3 separate regions of the Homo sapiens genome follow, and regions 2 and 3 are each linked to region 1. Evidence: fine-mapped QTL for protein levels in blood plasma. Region 1 holds a variant in brackets. A gene starts in each other region. All regions are shown on their forward strands.

Region 1 (5,409 bases):
TTCACGGCCTTCGTCTCGCCCTCGCGCAGCAGCTCGAAGGTGACGTCGGGGATGGGTCCCTCGCAGCGCAGGACGGCATCTCGGCCCGCCAGGACCGCCCCACTCCACGTCGCCCGGAGCTGAGGCCTGGGAGGGGGTCCTGGGCGGAGCGGGCGGGTGGTCGGGCCAGGCCACGCCCCAGGCCACGCCCCAGGCCACACCCCAGGCCACACCCCAGGCCGCGCCCGCGCCTGCGCCTCAGCCCCGGCTTCATCTTCCCTGTCTTGTTCCTGGGCGCAGAGGGCTCCTCCGGCGCCGCCGAGCTGCGCCCGCTGCCTTCACACCCCGGACATCCGCGCCACACGTGAGTGTCCCCGCACCCCTCCCCCAGGACCGTGGAAGTCCCAGATTCGGGCCTGCTCTGGGGCTTCTGGGGTCCCCAGCCTCGGTCACTCTGACGGGTGAAGGGAAGAAGAAATGATGGAGAAAACGGTGCTCCTTCATGGAGGGACCAAAAAAGGACATACAATCTATGTCAATAGATGAGGGTTTTCCCTCCATAAGTTTAACTTTAAAAGTGTATTTAAGGTGCCGGGCGCAGTGGCTCACACCTGTAATCTCAGCACTTTGAGAGGCCGAGGCAGGCGGATTGCCTGAGCTCAGGAGTTCCAGACCAGCCTGGGTAACACGGTGAAACCCCGTCTCTACTAAAATACAAAAAATTAGCCGGGCGTGGCAGCGTGCGCCTGTAATCCCAGCTACTCGGGAGGTGGAGGCAGGAAAATTGCTTGAACCTGGGAGGCAGAGGTTTCAGTGAGCCAAGATTGCGCCACTGCACTCCAGCCCGGGTGACAGAGTGACACTCCGTCTCAAAAACAAACAAACAAAACAAAACTGTAAGGAATCAAATGTTACAAAATCCTGGAAGATTTTGGTAATGCTGTTGATAATTTCAGGGAAATTAATGAAGTACATGTAAGTGCTTGATTTAAATGTGTATTTTATTCAATAGTTTGAGTATCTTGCCATGGAAGATACTAGCCCAGCCTAGCAGAAAAGTGCAATATGTATAATATACTTTCGCATTTTAAAAGTTATATTCCCTATCCATTTTGAAATGCTAGCCAAACTACATGAAGTTATTTGCAATTAATTGTAAGCTAATCAGGAATTTTGAAAGCTTGATTGGATTAACAAACTATAATGTTGAAATTTGGTAAAATCATAATGTTAATTTTTACTGTGAAACGTTTTCTTGTAAGATAGATATACACATCCTAGTTTAATTTTGTGTCTTAGTGTGGATTTACAAATTTACTACAGTTATTCTGAGCCCAGGAACCCAATCAGATTTCAGGCCAGTTTGATACTGGCTGTTCTTAATTCTAACAGGAGAGTAGGACATCATACTAAATGTTATGTCAGTGGGACTGTGTTGTCTTTGGAGCTTAGTAAATTAATCATTTTCTTCAGACTTTAAGGAGAGTGATAAATAAAATTTGGAGTCATAGGATATAGATGTACAATTTAAAGATTAAACATTTTTTTTTTTTTTGAGATGGAGTTTTGCTCTTGTTGCCCAGGCTGGAATGCAGTGGCATGACCTGGACTCACTGCAAACTCCACCTCCCGGGTTAAAGCAATTCTCCTGCCTCAGCCTCCCAAGTGGCTGGGATTACAGGCATGTGCCACCACAGCTGGCTAATTTTGTATTTTTAGTAGAGACAGGGTTTCTCCATGTTGGCCAGGCTGCTCTTGAACTCCTGATTTTGTGATCCACCCGCCTTGGCCTCCCAAAGTGCTGTGATTACAGGCGTGAGCCACCTTGCCTGGCCAAGATTAAACATTTTTCATCAATTGTGGATGGTGGCTTATAACACTGCAAGAATAGGCTGGGCATGGTGACTCACAAGTGTAATCCCAGCACTTTGGGAGGCAGAGGCGGGCAGATCACAAGGTCAGGAGGTCAAGACCAGCCCAGCCAACATAGCAAAACCCGGTCTCTACTAAAAATACGAAAATTAGGTGGGCATGGTGGCATGCGCCTCTAATACCAGCTACTCAGGAGGCTGAGGCAGGAGAACTGCCTGAACCCAGAAGGCGAAAGTTGCAGTGAGCTGAGACTGCACCACTGCACTCCGGCCTGCAAGAATAAAAGTAAGTTATCCAAAAAAAAAACAAAAAGGAGAAGAAAAGGGAGGAATGAAGGAGAGAGATGGGGTTGGGGGGCAGAGATGAGAGAGAGAGAAAGAAGAAAAAAGAAGAAAGAAAAGAGAGAAAGAAGGAAGGAAGAAAGAAAGAAGGAAAGAGAAAGAAAGAAAGAGGAAGGAAGGCAGGAAAGAAAAGAAAGAAAGTGAAAGAAAAGAGAAAACGGTGCTCCCAGCAAAGGGTACGACCTCAAGATCTGGAGGTCAGACCTGTGCCCTCACGCTCTGCTGGGCTCTGAGTCCTGGAGACGTCGATGAGGAAATCAGAGGGACAAACAGAGCTGGGGACGGCGGGGATGGGGAGAAGGACACATCAGCCGTGCGCCTGCGGGACCGGGGCCGGGGCGGGGGGTCCAGTATGACGACTGACATGGCCAGTAATAAAACAAGGCAGCCACAGAGCTGCAGGGATCTGAACAAGAAAACCTGGGGCCAGCCTCCCTGCTGCCGACCACCACGCTACACGTGACCTACGGGCTTGCGTCCGTGGGAAATAAGCCGAAATTCCAGGCGTCCCCAGACCCTCGACCACCGATCGCCTGCTCCCCGCCGGGGTAGGCGATGGGGGCTGAACCAAGGCCCAGAGCGCCGCCGTCGGACGCCCAAGGAAAGAGGGGAAAGACAGGAGGCCCCGAGGGGCACTGAACCCGCGCCCGCCCTCGCTGGTGCCCCGCCAGCTCACCGTCCACGTGCAGCTCCAAGCGCTCGCTGGGCGCGGAGCCCCCGAAAGGCGGCTTCAGGTCCACGTAGACGC[A/G]GCTGTAGTTGGCGGAGTCAGCCACGGAAATGTTGTGCAGCTCGAAGAGCGCCTCGGTCCCAGCGGGGCTCTGGAAACGGTGCACGCGGCGCCCGCCCCTGTCCTCGCGCACCAGGGCGAAGCGCGCGCCCTCCAGGGGCGCCAGGCACCGCAGCCGCAAGGCCCTGCCGGACTCCGGCTCCGGGGAGAACTCCGGCGCGGGCAGCGTCTCTGCGGAGCAGCACACGGGCTGACCCGGGCGCCCAGCGGCTGGCTCGGCCCTAACGCGTGGTCTGGCCTCGCGCTCTTTGCCTTGGCTGAGTCTTCTGCCCGCAATGACCTGGCCAGCTTCCTCCCTCGCCTCCTCCGGGCCCGCCCCACCTTTGCATCCCAGTCCTTGGATATCTCACACGCACCCTTTCACTGTTTCTTAGTAATTTGTTTGTCTACAGACACAGACGGGAAGCGGGGACGGGGACATGTTTTGTGCATGGCTTGATGCCTGGTGCACGATGCCGCTCAGTAGTGGATTTGCTCCACGAGCGTCTTCTGAGCACCGCCCCAATGCCCGCCCCACGGAGGGGCCCCTGTGGTCCGCTGGGCATGGGGTTCGCTGTCCGGTGCTCAGAGTTTGCTAAATACCATCAGGTCCAAGGCAAGCGAGCGGAGGAGCTGCCTCAGCAGAGGCCCTCAGTGCTCACCTAGACCTGGCAGCTGGGATGGGACCTGCCAGGTGGTGCCCCCTGTGGCCTGGGCCAGACCTGTTCACCCAGTTATTCCCTGTGGGGCCTGAAGGTTGTCACGCTCATCATCATATTTGCAGTTTAGGACCCTGAATCGGCGGGTGGGCGGATAAAGTTGGTATTGGACCCTGGCCCAGAGCACTGCACTTCCCCAGACTCTACACCTGGTACTGCTCCTGCTCCCCAGGGACCCAGCCGCGTCCCTGTCCCTGCTGGCCCCGGCTCACCATCGCTCAGAATCAGCTCGACCGGCGCGCTGTCCCCGGACCAGCCGTTTTGGTTGTCATGCAGCCGGTAGCGGCAGGTGTAGTGACCTCCATCCCCCAGGGCCACCGCGTTCAGGTGAAAGAAGATGCGATCTGGGCTGGTGCTGCTCCTGGGTACCAGCAGCTCTTTCTCCCCGCGCCGTAGCTGGAAGTCCACTCCACTCAGGGGAGCCACGCAGGTGAGGGTCACCTTGTTGCCAGGGTGCAGGACCTGGGAGGACTCTCCATGGTGCATCAGCACAGGCGGTGGTGGTGCAGCTGCAATGCAGGCAGCATTACTAGGCTGCCCCATCCCTGGAGCTGCCCTCTGCCCAGTCCCCAGACCTCTGCCCTCCGGGTGGCAATCCCAGGAACACCCTTCCATTCTTTTTTTTTTTTTTTTTTGAAACGGAGTTTCGCTCTTGTTGCCCAGGCTGGAGTGCAGTGGCGCCACTCAGCTCACTGCAAGCTCTGCCTCCCAGGTTCAAGGGATTCTCCTGCCTCAGCCTCCTGAGTAGCTGGTACTACAGGCACCTGCCACCACACCTGGCTAATTTTTGTATTTTTAGTAGAGACGGGGTTTCGTCATGTTGGGTAGACTGGTCTCGATCTCTTGACCTCATGATCCGCTGGCCTCAGCCTCCCAAAGTGCTGGGATTATAGGCGTGAGCCACCGCACCCGGCCTCACCCTTCCATTCTTTGGGCATCCTCTGCCCAAACTCCTTTGCAACCATCAGACCCAGGCAACCGTGTGGCCAGCTTCCTGGACCTGGTCCTGGGCAAGGACATTCAGCATGGAGGTCAGGATGAATGTGGTCATGCCCCCTGTATCCTCCTCCCCCAGCAGCCCCCAGAGATGGTTCCCACAGTCACCGAGCTCCTCAATGGTCACAGTAGCGCTGGGCTCAGAGAGGGCGCCTTCCCCATCGGTCCGGTAGCTGCAGCTGTAGTTGCCAGGCTGATGGACTGGAAAGGTGGCCTCCACATCCTCCTGGGCCTCAGGCACCTCCAGAAACTCATGGTCGCCCTCCCGCCTCAGCAGAAAAGTCACACCCCGCAGCACACCTCGGCACACTGCTGTTGTTTTCAGGCCGGGGGTGATCCAGGACACTGGCGCCATCGAGAGCCAGGGAGCAGGCAAGGACTCTGTGGGTGGGGTGGAGTTGAAGAGTGCTTCTGCATAACAGGAGACGTGGGAAGCCCAGCAGAACCTGGGCCCCACACTCATAAGACTGTGAAGGAGACAGGGATGGAGGGCATTGCTGGGAAAAGGCAGGCAGGCACCAGTGGAAACAAGGCATACGGCAAGAGAAAAAGAGTGTGTGGGAGCTGTACGGCATGCCGGGCCTGCTGGGGACACAACCATGTATTCCTTACAACACAGACATCATCCCCATTTGACAGATGGGAAGATTGGGGCTTGGGGCTCAGAGACATCGGGTGACTTGGAGGAAGGGAGACCCCCCAGTCAACAACCTACCCACTGCCTCCTGGCCCCCAA
Region 2 (9,192 bases), not on the chromosome of region 1:
CCAAGCAGTGGCAGAGACCACCAGAAGGTGGGGAAAGGCATGGAACAGGTCCCTCTTAGATCCTCCAGAGGGAGCTCAGCCCAGGAGATAATTTGATTTTAGATTTCTGGCCTCCATAACTGTGAGAGAATAAGTTTTTGTTGTTATAAGCCACTTAGCTTGTGATAATTTGTTGCAACCACCCTAAGAACCTAATATATTATTTAATGGAATATCCAAAATATTATCATTTCATCATGGATGCAATATTAAAAAAATGAGATATTTCCTTCTTTCTTTGTTCTAAATGTTTGAAATCTAGTGAGTTTCTTACCATCAGAGTACATTTTGCCTGTTCAAACCTCATTTCAAGTGTTCAGTAGTCACATGTGACCGGTGGCTAGCATACACATGCAGAACACATACAGCATAACCTTGGCCTTTCATCTCAATAATTGTGTTAAGTGCTCTGAGAACTCTGAACCAGTGGAAACTCTGACATACCAAACTCTCTTACCCCCCTTTACTTTCAGAATAGCCTGCCATACCACAAAGTTGCTGGATAGCTCTGAAAAGATTTTCCATTTTAACCTTACCTTTCCTTCTGCAGGTAAAGATGGAAGCAGCACAGTAACCAGAAACAACACCGGTAGTAAAGCCATTGCTGGAAACTAAGTCAAGAAAAACAAAGGTCTGCATTGAAATATGTAGTTTAAAAAACTTCTAAGAGGGGGAATACCAATATAATGATCTCGATTATCTCAAAGGAACTGTGATTCCCAGATTCATTAACAATGGAACAAAAGAAGAATTGCCCTATGGTACTAGTAGAATCATAATGAGGCCAACCTTGTCTTTGATAGTGACAATAAAGAAAAAGCTGAAGAACTCTACTGATGCCCTTGAGGTACATCTATAAAAGAGAGAGACCTACTCCCTTCTTTCTGCCTACTTCTGCTACCCTTACGCCATCAAAAAGAAAATAGATTCCTTAATAGTTAATTATAGTACTGACATTCATTCTTCATCTCAATTTTTGGAGGAAAGTTTATTTTCAATATGTACCATCTCTCAATTGGCTATTCTATACGAAAAGTAAAACGGTTTGTCCTTTTATTTATACCAGACTCTAATTAAGATGACAAGGTTGTGATTACACAGATATGGTTGTGCAAATACTTTATTAGCTGTTATTTCCCTAATGGAGTAACTAGAAGTTATGTTTATTTTCTTCCTTATACTTGTGAATATTTTCAAATTTCTCTGTATACAAAAAATACAATTAATGCATTGAAGATATAGCTTATTCAAGTTTACTCAATCCATTATTTGGTAAGAAGATTGTTTCGTATTTTCATTATCTCCTAAAAAGACACTCAGCATTTTGTTACCCATGTTGTCCTTTCTCAATATGTCAAAAAGTCTCACGTCCTTCAGATGAAACAACAAGACCACTTAGTTTTGGAAACACTCACCTTTCTGTCATTAGTCATATAAATTGTTTAATTTGTAAATTAAAGTTATGCTGCCTAGATTTGTTTCTTGTGTGTGAGACTGTCACTCCCAAATTCTTGGAAAGAAAGAAAATTCCGAACAATTTATCTGTGATGCTTCTCAGGCTTCACTTACTGTAAATAGTGTATCATTGATACTTGTTCCATCCATTGCCTTTATGCTCAATTATGTGCAAAAAAGGGATGAGGGATGAACAATTATTGACGGTTCATGGAAAATGATATACAATTTCACTCCCATACCTTACTGGGTATTACTATTTATATTGTATGGATGATGTAATTGAGGCTTAAGACAGTTAATTAACCTATGCCAATGCTACGTTCTTAGGTAATGTCAGAAATTAGTCTTCATCCAATTATGACTTCGAAGTCAATGACTTTGAAAGAGACATTGACTCATTGAAAGAGACACAGTTTTAATTGGGAAAAGGCAGACATTGTTGCAGCACAATGGAGACCCTTTATTTTTACTTTAATAATTCCCTTATTAATACATAACTGTATATGTTAATAGTAAAATCATTAATATGCCAGCTTATACAATATACTTAAACAGCCATACTTTTCCATTTTCCTATTAAAGGTAGTTCTAGTATAATTGTCTCAAGTCACAAACATGAGAATTAATTCCATTACTTATTTTTAGAATAAAATGTAAAAAATTTTTACATATCAAATTTTTTTGTGTGTGTGCGTAATATTGCTGTAATTTACCTTCTTAACTGTAAAAGAATAAAATTAACTTGAGGTCATTCTCAATACAAATTTATTAAAGTTTTGAAAATCATGGATAGGCCAGGCACAGTGGCTCATTCCTATAATCCTAACATTTTGGGAGACTGAGGTGAGAGCACATAACTTGAGCCCAGGAGTTCAAGATCAGCCTGGAAAGCACAGTGAGACCTCATCTCTACTAAAAACAAACAAACAAAAACAAAACATAATTAGCTGGGCATGGTGGCAAGTGCCTGTAGTCCCAGCTACTCAGGAGGCTGAGGTGGGATGATCATTTGAGCCTAGGAGTTTGAGGCAGCAGTGAACTATGATCACAGCACTGCATTCCAGCCTGGGTGACAGAAAGAGACCCTGTCTCTAAAACAAACAAACAAACAGACAAACAAAAAACAAAAAAATAAAATCATGGGCAAACTCATTAATCATTTTACCCTTGACAACATAAAAATGATTGGCATGATAAAATATTCACATTAAAATCAATGATTTAACACTTACTGTTGGTTTTCTGAGCAGGATGAAATATCTACTTTATCTTTAGAAAGAAAGAAGGTGGAAGGTTTAGAGCAGCATATATATTACACATATTCCTGTTTTGTCAAACTCTGGTTTTGTTAAATAAATCTAAGTCAACAAAGTTCTGAAGTAGTATTTTTCATACCAGTAACCTTAAACTTCATTGTCAGTTGTCTGATAATGCTTTTGACATTATTTGCTTCCCACATAGTTTTTAACATGAGTAAGTAAATCATGCCCTCCCTTTCTAATCAGTTCTCCCTTCTCCTTAGGCACACGATAATCTGCATGTGGCCTTTTTGGACTAGTATTTCTATATTGACAACCCAAGACAGGTTAACTACTGTGAAGGTTACCAGGATTCTGCCTTATAGCTGAACTCTCATAGTTCAGCTGTCTATGATTTTTACTTTCTAATTATCAACTACCTGTAGCTTATTGGTTACGGGTGCATTCTTTGGAAACCATCAGGTCTGGGAAATCTATGCCAAGCTTCAGTGTTTTTCTTATGTAAAATGTAGATTTTTATATCACAGGTTTTTGCTTTGAAGACTGGAAGGGACAATGTATGTAACACCTCTAATACAATAAACACATTATGCACATAATACAAATAAACGGAAATTATTCATGTTTTTATTATCTTTTGCAATGTCTGCTAGTTTGTTGAGCTCATAAGAGCTTTCTATAAACATATGCTGTTTGATTGAATTGCTAATTACTAAGTGTTTAAGAGACATGTGTTTCCTTCCAGGTGTTATAGGAAAATACAATCAGTATAATCTAATTCGAGATTCACATGTTCAAGGCCTGGTTCTATTAGACACCTTCTGGCTGACTTTAGGAAAATGCTCTAACATCTGGGCTGTTGTATCCTCATCAGCTCATTGAAAGCCATACACAGGAGCCTGAAGAGTTTTGTATAGCTCAATCACCCAGTGTATGCATCTGATGAGCCAGAATTCTATAATAGGCCATGATGCCATACTCTCCTCTTTGCTGCTCTTCTCTCTCATAACCTCAACCATCTAACCTATACTCATCTTCATTGAGTCAATGAAAGCAATGTCACTGTTGGTGAGAGTATATTCAAGGAAAAATATTTTTTTCTATTCCATATAATTACATTTTATTCCTTTAAACCCATATTGATATATAGTTGAAAAGTTGGCTACCATTTTTTTTCTTTGCTACTTACTAATGGTGAAGTACTGTGCTCTTTCTTGCAGGTGTTTTAAGATCAGGATGACATGGTTTTCCTAGAGTGTCTTTAGGAGGGCCATGGTGTATAATTTTATAACCCTAGAACAAGGAAACAAAATATTTAAAATAAAGATGTGAAGAATACCCTTATAGATGGTATCTATAATCTTTGTCACAAACTTAAATTTTGACTCAATTGTTTAGTATTGTTTCTAATAATTTACTGTATTTATTTGATTTCAGCGTTAAGACCATATTGTCCTTCTGAGGTCAGATTGTATTTCAACGCCCTGATATTTCCTTCAAACACTAACAAAAAAGTGGACTTCTTGAAGTTCAGTAACTACTAGTTGGCTAACTTGCTTGGAAAATTGCAACCTTTTTTCAAGACTCCCAACCCCTTATCTAGGACTTCAACCCATTCTTTAAAAGATCATTTCCATAAGCAGTGTCCCACATGGTAAGTATTAACTACGTGGATTTGGGGGTAACAGCTTTGTCTCTTCATTTTTTTTTTAAATTCTGGAAGCCAATAGATGATATAAAGTCCAGCAGAGTCAATGACCCCAACTCTAATTGTTATTACAGTTTCTAATAACTGTACATTCAAAACATCAATTAGAAACTAAGAGTCTTAATTTGACTTCGTAAAAAGCAGATTGAGAAATGACTTCAGGCTTCTACTATGATTCAATGGGTCTTATGTACTTAGAATGATTTCTCTTTTAAGGTAGGTAAAGAGTTTCAATAGACTAAACATAGAGAAGCATGTTGAAAGTTATGGTAGGTCGGCGCTAAGCAACAAAATTGAACTCTCAGTCTGCCCGGCATTAGCTATGTGCCCTCCAGATGCCGGAAGAGGAGCGAAGGAGGATCAGAAACCCCCTCACCTCAACGATGGTTCTCTCCCCTGTGCTTCACCCCACCTCCCCGTCCCTAGCCATTTCTAGTCTCCAATCCGGGTCTTACATTTACCCTGGCTCCAGAGCACAGACCTTCCTGCAGTTGGGCCGGCGCGTTGCGGCGTTGAGGAGCTGCGGCGCGCCCCTCTCACCGCGATTGTTCACTTGCCAGGCGCCACGTGTGGGCGACGTCACTGGGCTTTATGCTTTCATCGCCGCTATCTGCCTACGTGAGCTGCTCTCCTCCCATCGCCCCCGCCTCCCCTACTACGGAGAAAATCTTGCACGTTTTCCCTTGTGAAAAGCAGAGTTCTCTTTTTCTCATTACCACCAGTTGATGAGGAAAGAAAATGTCTGTTCGCATACCTGCGCCGTACTAGGAGGAGGAGGGAGGTCATATAAGGATTCGGGTTGCCCAGGGGGTGGCTTGAAAAAGGAGGCGTTCGCATTCAAACAAGAATGCCTGAATTAATGTAGTTCAATTTAAAGAGCTAATTAGGAGTCCACAGGTGCTTAAGTTTGCAGTGCGCTGCCAGTGTCATGCCAACGACGCACTCCAGTTACACAGGTTGTCAGTTTCAGGCTCCCTCATAAACACTTCATGTTCTTGTCCCTCTTCCCCGTTGGCAACAGTTTTATGGTGAGAAAATTCACGAAGAGTAACAGGAACAACTCTTATGAAAATACGCAGAACTCCTGACCCAAGGCTACTGGCTGCAAGTTTAGCATACGTATCAAGCATGGGTTAAAGACATGTTTTCTCTCTCAGAAGGCGGATGAGTAATAGGTGCATTTTCTTCTATTCACAGTTGTTTTCAAAGCGAAAAGGAGTGAATTCGCTTATGACCTAGAGGAAGAGAGATGGGTCAAAAGATGTCAAGCCAAGGATTAATATCCGTCATACCTTGGTTCTCTGTAAGCCATGCAATAAGAGGCTTGAGATTTCACCAACTCTGGAGACTCACTTGGGCACAACTGAAACTATAACAAACTTGGTGCTCAGTGCCATTTTCCTTTGGCAGTGTTACAAGGTAATTTCAAGGGATCAGCACACAGACATTGTTTTAGTTTTCTTTTGCTGCTTATTTCAGTTCATGCAGCACTGACTAAAAATTTTGGAATTTAGACTGCTTAACGCTTATATCTACATCCAATATCAAAATTCATTACTGACAGTTTGCCTTTCTAAATATTTATGAAATCTAGTCCTCAATCTGTCCCTCACTTCTATATTCATGTTTTCACCATATCTTGCTTAAGTTATTAATTGGACATTTCAAATACCTATATGCACAAAATCTCTGCCTACCTATTTGTTCTTTCTTTCTAGTGCCGAACAATTCATTCTCAGCACTATAATAGTCTATCATTTACTGTGAATATCTTATTTTTCATTTTTGGAGAAGAGTCATTCCTGTAATTATTACTTGTTCCCATATTCACATTGATGATATCAGAATGAGAGCAACTTGAGCGCTGTGGTGCCAGATATTGTTGGTGAACCTGAATTTCAGAAATTGGCTATGTCTGTCTTGATTATTGCTGTATCTCCAAAACTAACACAATACCAAATATAGGTGGTAGTTTGTAAATATTTGTTAAGTGAGTAAATATTGACCCGACATAGATTCTTAGAAAATACAGAAAAAAGGACATAAAATCTCTTTCTTCTAAGACTCATAGTACTATGAGAGAAAGGAGTATGTATATGAATAAGTAAAGAATACTATTAGGTAGTGTAGTTTAATGCTAAGTAGGGCGACCAAAAATATATACAGTAATTGAGAGTTCTGTGAGTTGATATGATCTGGGTAAAACCTAGGAAAGTTTTGACATTTGAACTGTTATTGAATAATGCGTATGGCTTGATTTGAAGGGAGAAAGAGTTGAAGAACAAAAGCAGATAAATCATTATATCACAAGGCATATTCAAGACAGAAAGACTGTTGAAAAGGTTGGGGAAACTTTGTATAGAAGTCTAAGGAGATTTGCTTCTCTGTATAACATGGGAAAGTAATTTCATTGACATTTTGGAGGGTTGGGAAATTCTTTGATCAAAAGAATGTTTCATAAAAGCCACCTGATCTCACTGCATGGGGTGATTTACAGAGCTGAGAAATTGATGGCAGCAAAAATAAGTGTGGTAACAATTCCCCAGATTAATTTTGTAGTAGTAGAAATAGGACAAAAGGGTGGAATATGAAGAGATTTTTAAAAAGTGTTGATAGATTTTGTATGAAGGGCAAATCCAGAATAGAAGACTTGTAAGTTTGGTGCCTGAATGTGTTGGAGAGCACATGGAAAGTAGATCTCCATTACTGAGAGGAATAGTACAGGTACTTCTAAGAACATTGCCAGGAGTCCTTTGCTTTTCTAGAAGGGCATCATTTGTTAGTTCCTTTTTCTATGGTTTGGAGTAAAAGAAGCAATGATTAGAAATGCATTCCTCATAGTAGGCTCTATAGCAGATTCTACTGTATAGGATATAGTTAAATACCAGACTTTAAATTCTCTTGTGAAAATTATGATAGAATTGGCTGAATAGAGAAGTATCTGTGCAGCTGCTGGCACTTGTGGCCTATGGAGAAATACATCAGATGAAGACTATAGAGATTTAGCTGTAGAGGATAAATGAAGAGATTGCTTAGTTAAGTAAGTAGACTCTTTAGCTCATTTTTTGATCTATTTAATTTTAGGTGGTTTGGTTTATGGGTAACCTGGGTAAAGAGCATACTCCAAACTCTTGGTATTATCCTCCCGATAGTCATAATAATAGTTTCCCTGGTACACTGTATTCTCTCAAAGGTTTTAAGTGCTTCCACGCAGCCATTGCTAGAATGTCAAATGGTCTCTCTTCAATTAGAATGACAAGAGCTGAAAGAAATGTGTGACCATGAGGACACCATAACCTATGAATGATGTGGTGAGACCAGAAACCCGAAATAATGGTAACTGAGAGTGGTGCTAAGGCCCTAAGTTTTGGTCACACTCTCACCTAAGTGAGAACCTTATCAAAAAGGGGGGAATTTTCTTTTTAAGCAAAAGCATAGGAGGCAATTGTTTTGGACTGAGTTCATGCACTAGGCCCCAAAAGACCAAACCAAACCAAACCAAAACAGAGTCGCTTGTGCTAAGACATTAAGGAAACACATAGATCCTAGAAAAGACCAGGTTTTGTTTTTCTCCTGCAAATTTCCATAACAAACATTGCTGAAAGAATAGGTATCCACCCCCTAAAATTCCCATTAAATCTTTAACCCAATTCATTTCCTCTCGCCTAGAGACGATTAAGCTTTAGATGATCATGTGACAAGGGTTCCAGCCAGTTCCAGGTGAAGATGCCTCCCCTGGCCATCAAGGAGCTACCCTTCCTTCACTAGAGAGAGCAAGGCAAGAGGTCTGTGATCCCCACACCAGTCATAAAGCATTTACAGAAGAAAGACCATCGGTTGTTCCACCTCCCATAAAGACTTATGGAGATCACATCTTTCAGGGGGAAATTGAGGCAGGAGAATAGGGCCTAGAGGCAGAGAACGAAAGGACTTTCTAGAACTAAATCAAGGGGAAACACTTCTTCTAGAAACACTGTATTGGTACAGAAAAAATTTCTCAAGTGAGCATGTGTACAACTCCATTAAACACACTGTGCATGAGGCTGCTCCCAAGTGCTAGCAGGCTACTGCACATGCAGATGGCCTAATCCAAGGGAAGAGTAATGCAAGACCCTGGAAGTATGCCAACATATAAAACCCCAAGTCAAAAGGTCAAATTGTTAGAGGAAAGAATGGCTACTCCATAGGCAGAGCAGCCCCAAGGGCTGCTGGTTGCCAATTTTTATGGTTATTCTGATTATATACGAAACAAAGGGTGGATTTTTCATGTCTCCCCTTTGTAGACCATATAGGGTAACTTCGTGACATTGCCATGGCATTTGTAAACTGTCACAACCCTTGTGGAAGTGTAGCAGTGAGGACGACCAGCAGTCACTCTTGTTGCCATCTTGGTTTTGGTAGGTTTTAGCTGACTTGTTTACTGCAAACTGTTTTACAAGAAAGGTCTTTATGACCTGTATTTTGTGCCAAACTCCTATCTTATCCTTTTACTTAGAATGCCTTAACTGTCTGGGAATGCAGCCCAGTAGGTCTCAGCCTCATTTTACCCAGCCCCTATTTAAGATGGAGTTGCTCCGGTTCACATTCCTCTGACATTTCTCCTCTCCCTTTTATAAAAGAACCCTTAATCCTAACAGTTGCAGAAGGATGAAGATTCATCTTCTTTAACTTCTTCAGGCTGAATGGGGCAATGATATTTCTGTGTAACTATTAGGGTCTCTTGTGTTC
Region 3 (8,000 bases), not on the chromosome of region 1:
TTCCATTATTTTTTCCATAAATGTTTGGTAGAACTTGCTTATGAAACCAGCTAGGTATGAAGATGTTTTCTAACCATGGTTTTTAATTATTGATTTAATTCCTTAGTGGAAATGAAACCATTCATATTTTCCATATCTTCTGGTAACACATTCTTGTGTCAATAAATTATATTCCTAATAAGGGAGAAAAGGGACTATACTCTAAAGCACTAGCAGAATTTAGCAAGCATGTGTCAGCCTGAGCAGGGGAAGTAGACTTGGGTTTGGATTTTGAGGTGCTTGATAAAAGGAGTTGGAATATAAGCCTCGATAAGAGACAACTTACTGACTTGGGAGTATTCTTTCCGGATATAGGCTGTAACCTCTTGAGAAGGACCCCAGGGGTTGGTACAGATTTGTTGTCAGAAAGGCTCCAGAAGCCTGAGAAAGCAATGGCTCATGCCGAGTGAAGTTAAAATACCCGAATTGCCATGACAGATGGAGAAGGAAGGGATTAAAAGAGTCATGGAAGTGGTCATGCTGGAGTGGATACATTACATGAGGCCAGAAGACTCACCAGATTATGTTCCATGGGAATGCACTATTCACCAAAGCCACCAGGACTCCCTGGTGAGAGGAGCACCAGCATTTCTAAGAAGTTAGTGGTCCCGCCTTCTTTATAGGCTAGGGCTGATGGTAAGAGTGGCTGTCACAAAACTTGGCCCATTGATAGCTCTTCCTCCTTGAAGCAGTGGGGCCCTCTCTCCTTGAAGCAGTGGAGCTTTCTTGCCTTGAAACAGTGGAGGCTAGGTAGCAGCATTTAACAAACAGAAGCCAAGGGGTTCTAAATATCGTTATAGCCAGCAAGGTTGGAGTGACAATCAAGGGGTCTTGACCCATGGAGAGTTGTGGCAATGGTTAATAGAACAAGCATCTCTAGAGGGAAGGTGAAGTGGAAATCTCTGAAACTGCCCCCTTCTCCCAGGAAAAAAGAGTAGATTAGAAACAATATTGCAATCTAGTGGAGGGGATGGTGGAGACTAATGCCACCCTTAAGGATACAAAAAATGCAAGGAAAATGGTTATTATCATATCTATTTAATTTGCAAGTCTGGCTTCTGCAGAAACTGGATGGATCCTAGAGAATGACTGTAGAACACTGTGAGCTCAACCAGGTAGTAACCTGATTGCAGCTTCTATAACCAGGTACTGACACATGCCAGGTATTAAGTACATGTTATGTACCTATTGATTTGGCAAATGCATTCTGTCCCATAACAAGTAGGAAAGAGGATAAGAAAAAGTTCCCATTCATAAGAATGGAAAATATTCACTTACAGTTTTCCTGTAGACTATTAACTCTCATCTTCTGCATACTGTAGTCTGAAGAGATCTGAATTTTCATGTATCTCTCAAAACAACACATTGATCCATTACATTGGTGACATCATGTTGATAGGGCATGATAGACAAGAAGTGGCCATATGTTGGACACTCTGTAAGACATATGTATTCCAGCTGGGTGCGGTGGCTCATGCCTGTAATTCCAGCACTTTGGGAGGCTGAGGCGGGTGGATCACCTGAGGTCGGGAGTTCAAGACCAGCCTGACCAACATGGAGAAACCCCATCTCTACTAAAAATACAAAATTAGCCAGGCATGGTGGCACATGCCTGTAATCCCAGCTACACAGGAGGCTGAGGCAGGAGAATCGCTTAAACCCAGGAGGTGGAGGTTGCGGTGAGCCGAGATTGCGCCATTGCACTCCAACCTAGATGACAAGAGCGAAACTCCATCTCAAAAACAAAAAGAAAGAAAGAAAGAAAAATACAAAGAAAAAAACGTATGTATTCCATGAGGTGGGAGATAAATCTTTTAACTATTTATGGACTTGTCATTTCAGGAAAGGTTTTATGAGTCCAGTTGTCAGGGGCATACAGGGATATCTCCTTCAAAGTGAAAAACAAATTAACATAATGTATTAGCACAAGGATAGGAAAATAAACCATTGGAACAGAACAGAAATTCCAAAAGCAGACCACAAAATCATTGAAATCAATAAACCGAGTAAAGCAGATTGCCCTCTCTAATGTGGTGGGCTTCATTCAATTAGTTGAAGTTCTGAATACAACAAAAAGCCTGACCCTCCTGCCTGTAAGAGGGAATTCCTCTTGCCTGATTGCCTTCACACTGGGACATAGGTTTTTCTCCTGCCTTTGAACTTAAACTGAAACATCATCTCTTCCTGGGCCTTAAGCCTGCCCATTCTCAGGTCTTTGAACTCAAACTGGGACTACACTAGCAGCTCTCCTGGGTCTCCAGCTTGCCAGCTCACCCTGCAGATCTTGGAACTTGTCAGCCTTCATAATTAAATGAGCCAATTCTCTAATTTCTTATTTTTTATACACACACCATTGGTTCTGTGTCTCTGGGGAATCCTGACTTATACAATGGTCTTACCAATGAGTTGCCAAGGTCCATTGGGTATTCATGTGGCAAAAAATAAATCTTGAATCCTTCTTCACACCAAACATAAAAATCAACTCCAGATGGATTGTAATTTAAATATTAATGCTAAAACAATAAAGCTTCTACAAGTTAACATAGGAGGATATCTTTATTGCCTTAGGATAGGGGAAGATTTCTCATTAGATCACGAAAGGCCTAACTGTATATAAAAGATTGAAGCATGTGACTCTCTTAAAAGGAAAAACAATTGTGAAAATCCATTAAAGCATTCTGCTCTATCAAAGGAGGCTGTGACCACTCATTTCTGAGAAATATCTGTCATGTGAAAACATAATCACATGATTATGCATAATCCTAAGCATAATCCCTGGGTGCTTCCAACTCCTGGTCACCCATCTGGAGATACAACTTCTCCATAAGCCCCTCAATCAACAAGTGAACCACTCGTTTGTGTACCCTAAACCTTTCAAGTAACCATAGGCAACCCTGGGCTGAGAACTCACATGACACCACCATAGTTAAAATGTCTTGCATCAGCACCTCCAATGTTCCCATGGTCCAGTCTGCCTATAAAAAGGAGAGACAACAGCTCATACCCCAGAAGGAGGCCAGGAGTTGTGAGTTTCCAAGCCCCAGCTCACTCTGACCACTTCTCTGCCTGCCCAGCATCATGAAGGGCCTTGCAGCTGCCCTCCTTGTCCTCGTCTGCACCATGGCCCTCTGCTCCTGTGCACAAGGTGAGTCTGTCATCCATGTGCTTTGATGGCTCCCTGGGCAGAAGTCAGGCGACATCTTCCAAGTGCTGTGGCCTGAAAACCCTCGTGTGAAATTAGGGATCCTCAAATGGGGTTTCAAAGTGACATCATTGTTTTCTTCAAGAAGGTTGAAAAGCAGTCTATTGATCTGGGCAGCAGGATGGGAGTCAGAGAAGTTTTATCCTACTGAGATAAATGAGATGGTTGAAGTCTAATTCATTGGGTTATTAGCGTGAGGTAGAATCTAGGTCTATTTAGTTCTCACTGGTGCTGGTAAGTTTTACAATGACCTCAGCAGTCTCCTAGAGTTCAACCCCTTGGGTAACATAAAAGATGTCTATACTTTTCTCAGCTATCTTGTGATTTAATCTATTAGAAAAAAAATTCCCCAAGGAGAGTTAGGAGAAGGGCATAGACTATTCAGGGAGCTTGATTCCCTGTAGCGTAAAATAAAGACTAAAATGGAGAGACAAGACTAGGGAAATTAAGGAGAAACAAACAAAAAGCCAGATTATTTCCAGCTTTCTTTTCCTGCAGGCCTCAACTCTGAGCTATGCTGTCTCCCTTTGCTCCTTTGTGACCCGCCTGGGCTTCTTCTCCTGAGCAACTCCTGTTGTCTTTGTTCCCTCAGATAAGATTCACACCCCATGCATCTGCTGCTTCTCCTACACCTCCCAGTAGATGCACTGCAAATTTTCGGTTGCCTATTATAAAACCAGTGGTGAGCGGTCTTAAAATTAAAATCCTATGATATATTTTAATTACTTTATACAGTCAATATTCATTTAGTTTTCATCACATATTTGCTCTTCCTGTCCTCTTAAATTCTTCTGCATCTCTGAGCTCCATCTGCAATCACTTTTCTTCTGCCTAAAGGAATCCTCTTAGTATTTTCATTACTGTGGGTCTTCTGATAGTGAAGTCTCCATTTTTTGCTTGCTTGGAAATGTCTTCATTTTACCTTCATTTTACCTTCACACTGGATATGAAAGTCCATAGTAGCTCCCACCTCCTACTTGTGCTTACGTGCTCCTTGTCCCTTGTCCCATGGGTTGTCTCCTCCATATGCCCTATTTGCAGACAGAAGGACTGATGCTGACATTACGCCAGGGTAAGAGCACCAGCTGCTGGAGTCAGCAAATTTGCAGTGGATATGGAGAAACATAAGAGAGGCAGGAGACAATGGGGTGCCTTAACCGTGAGGGAACCAGCATCCAGAACCTGAGAAAAACCAAGTAAATTTCTTCCACTCTTGAAAAGGGACCAGCAAGAAGTTGATGAAGACCTCACTGCTCAGGACTGTGAAGTAGGGCACAAAAGGAACTAAGGAAGTCAGGCATTCATCCTTGACTTTGAGTGTTTCTTTTAAATCTCTGCCTCTGTCTTACTCTCACTCCCTTGCTCCCTCTTCAGGGAGTATAGCTCTTGGAATGGCTGGCCTTTGTTCCATCTCTTTTGGGTAGGAACTTCATTCAGTCTACAGAGACTTTTCCCAGCAAGAGACCATCGTCTCTAAATCGCTGTAGGAGTAGAGCTTCTCAGGAGAACTGAAGGAACTCTGCCACTTCCTCACCCTAGGAACCAACTAGACCCAGAGTTTGCATCTTGTGAATGACTGAGTTAGGCCCCAGTTTTCCCAACTAACAATGGGTCCTAGCCCTCTCCTGCCTTTCAGATCTAGGTTAGATATCTAAGTCCTCAGAAAATAGCCCAGAACATTTTGAAACCTTTTGTGAAGTTCTTTGATTTTACTTAGAGAATCTTAATCCACAAGAATTAAGTGATATGGCTTAAATGTCTGTCCAGAGCATAGGGAAACAACTCTAAAATGAAGAAAGGACAAGGGTCAAGAGAGTCTCACGGGACAGATGAGACTTGTGAGCTGAGGGCCATGGAGAGGAGATGGAGGGCACCAAAGAAGACCTGTTCAGTGTTGGGCAGGCAGAGGAGTGTAGGCAATGCCAAAACAGGACTGGGCACTCACTGCCACCTACATCGTTCTGGGGTCCAAGCCATGTCCTCAACCCTTTACAGGCAACTCTAAACCATGAGGAGCTGGAGACTGGGGATGACCAGAGGGGAAGATGTTAAGTGCATGGTGTCTTGCTCTGAGTTGTACATGTTGGGGTACCTTGGGTCCCCCAGGGGTTCAGGATGTACAAGAGCAACTCAACTGCTCACTTGTTGGGGCTGAATGTGCAGAAATGTTTTTGACAGTGAGAGAGGGTGAGATGTTAGTGTTGAAGTCATACGTACAAGGAGAGATCTTCAGATTAACACTTCCACCACAGAGCAGCTCTCTAATGCTGTGCTGCAGCTCCTCTGACCACATGGTGTGATGTAAATGGTCATGCCACAGCGTTCTGGGCAGCACAAGTCACATTTAAACCACACCCTGGGTGAAAAGGACCATTACATCGTGTTAATCGGAGTGCTTCTAAGAAATGCTTAACTCATGAGGAGGACGTCAAGAATTGGTGTTACCAAGAAGCCAAGCTTAGCTGGTACCTTCTATCAAGAACAGATCTATTTGTGAATGGCACCATGGTCATTTCCTCCTATGGAACAGATATTTCTAGTGTTGTGTTTCCATTGCACAGAAGTGACATGTAAGATGATACCCCAGAATCTTAAGTAGTTCGAGTTGTGTTTGATCCAGACCCAAATGGACAGAATGGAATAGGGAAAGTCTGGACTATGGGAATGACAAGAATGATGGGGCCAGGCTTTTAACTGCTGTTTGATTCATTGAACATTCATAGCTCCCTACAATATGCCATCATTGGGTTTGACTCTGGGTAATAGACATGAATATGCATGACATATGGGGTGTCTATATAGATCAGGAGCCTTAGATGCCCTTATTTTTTCACCCAGGAAGCCCACAGCTAGGAAAATATCCTACAGAAATAACCTCACTTATGGAGAAAGTTTTTTGCATACAGATGTTTGGCACAACTTATAACAATGAAAAATTGGCCAGGTGCAGTGGCTTACACCTGTAATCCTAGCACTTTGGGAGGCCGAGGCAAGCAGATCACCTGAGGTCAGGAGTTCGAGACCAGCCTGGCCAACATGGTGAAACCTCATCTTCACTAAAAATACAAAAATTAGCTGGGCATAGTGGTGCACGCCTGTAGTTCCAGCTACTCAGGAGGCTGAGGTAGGAGAATCGCTTGAACCTGGGAAGTGGGGGTTGCATTGACCTGGGATCACACCACTGTACTCCATCCTGGGCAACAGAGTGAGACTCCATCTAAAAAAAAAGGAAAAATTGAAACCAACCCACATATGTTACAGTAGTGCATGACAATATTAATGCACTAGGCTTAAGTAAATTAGGCAGTTCTTAAAAATACTGGAATGATTTGGAAAAGTCTTTTAATATTAAGCACAGTCATATGCTGCATAACAATGCTTTGGTCAATGACAAACTGCATATATTATACAGTGGTGGTCCCATAAGATTATAATTCTGTATTTGTACTATACCTTTTCTATGTTTAGATATGTTTAGATATGCAAATACTTAACATTGCATTGCAGTTGCCTACAGTATTCAGTACAGTGGCATGCTGTACAACTTTGTAGCCTAGGAGCTACAGGCTGTACCATACAGTGAAGGTGTACGGTAGACTACACCATCTAGGTTTGTGTAAGTCTATGATATTCCCACAATAACAAAACAGACTAATGACAAGTTCCTCAGATGTATTTTTGTCATTAAGTGATGCATGGCTGTATAAATAAAAAAATACAAAATTAAAACCTGTATCATGACAACAGTAATGTCTTCCCCCACCAGACACAGTAAGAAGAAGGAAAAAAGCAAATGAGCAAACAGTACTATCATAAGCCTAGAAAAAAACTGCACTGGAAAGAAATATACCAAACTGTTTTTTAAAAAAAAAAAGTGGCTAGGTTTGGGTACTAGAATTTTTCCTACCTTCAATGAAATTTTTTTTTCAGGTTTTGCATCAGAATGCACATATGCCACAATAGGGAATGTAGAAAAAAACTCTCACATTCCTGCCTCCGTTTGCCTGCTGCCTACCCAGCTTTGAGATTCTAAATGAGTTTTTATTCTTTTCTGTATTTTATGTGTTTTCAAAATTAGCTTTACTGCTTTTTGGTGTAATCTATAGTTCACATAACAAATCATATAAAAAGCTATTTGAACTAAAAACACTAGTAACATTGCTCTTCCTGTACTCCTATGAGACTCCCTCGTATGCTTGTGGATGAGACATTATGAGGATGTGATGACTGAGAAAGCAGCGGCCATTTTGGGACCACGAGGTGACAAGCTCAAATAAGAAAAGCCAACAAAATGGTGGGGGAAGGGGAGATGTTTTAAGAAGCCTGAGTTCTTGATGACACAACTGAGCTGTTAAACAAACTCAGGGAGGACCACCTGTTTAAATTTATTTATTTACCTAATTATTTATTTGAGACAAAGTCTTACTCTGTTGCCCAGGCTGGAGTGCAGTGGCATGATCAGAGCTCACTGTAGGCTTGACTTTCCGGGCTGAAGCAATCCTCCTGCCTCAGCGTCCAAAGAAGCTGAAACTACAGGCATGCCCAGCTACTTTAAAAAAAAAAAAATTTATAGAGACAGGGTCTCACTATGTTGCTCAGGTTGGTCTCACACTCTTGGCTTCAAGCAATCCTCCCACCTTGGCCTCTCCAAATGCTGGGATTACAGGCATGAGCCACCATGCCTGGCTCTGATGTCCATGGTACATCTATGCTGTTGGAACAGCTGGGGAGGCTATCAGAAGGTTCTGCTCAATGGGAG

Alleles and levels. Alleles are on the strand shown, and positions count from the first base shown. The strength of an association depends on the size of the effect and on how common the allele is.
For the plasma level of the protein whose gene starts at base 4,988 in region 2, allele A in region 1 goes with a higher level than allele G (moderate association).
For the plasma level of the protein whose gene starts at base 3,047 in region 3, A is the high allele of the variant in region 1 and G is the other (weak association).

What was found. A credible set is the group of variants that fine-mapping cannot tell apart. PIP is the posterior inclusion probability: the model's chance that the variant is causal. Protein levels are from antibody-based Olink assays in UK Biobank. Linkage for the fine-mapping came from a reference panel and not from the study's own genotypes, which makes the PIPs less certain.
Region 2: it holds the start of CRISP2, and the variant in region 1 is the best candidate, but not a certain one, in a credible set for the plasma level of the CRISP2 protein (UK Biobank, PIP 0.87).
Region 3: CCL18 starts here. The variant in region 1 is the best candidate, but not a certain one, in a credible set for the plasma level of the CCL18 protein (UK Biobank, PIP 0.89).

Annotation. Positions count from the first base shown.
Region 1 is chr19:58,347,502-58,352,910 of GRCh38, forward strand. A1BG (alpha-1-B glycoprotein) reads right to left here. Exons shown (of 8, transcript NM_130786.4): 4 at 4,782-5,054; 5 at 3,890-4,186; 6 at 2,869-3,150; 7 at 1-139. A1BG-AS1 (A1BG antisense RNA 1) reads left to right here and starts at 4,469. Exons shown (of 4, transcript NR_015380.2): 1 at 4,469-5,409. RefSeq lists enhancers at 1-294, 511-590 and a silencer at 1-320. The variant A/G (reference allele first, on the strand shown) is at 2,941.
Region 2 is chr6:49,708,556-49,717,747 of GRCh38, forward strand. It overlaps CRISP2 (cysteine rich secretory protein 2), which reads right to left and starts at 4,988. Exons shown (of 10, transcript NM_003296.4): 1 at 4,920-4,988; 2 at 3,946-4,049; 3 at 2,730-2,766; 4 at 576-650. The coding sequence starts at 641.
Region 3 is chr17:36,061,226-36,069,225 of GRCh38, forward strand. CCL18 (C-C motif chemokine ligand 18) reads left to right here and starts at 3,047. Exons shown (of 3, transcript NM_002988.4): 1 at 3,047-3,184. The coding sequence starts at 3,118.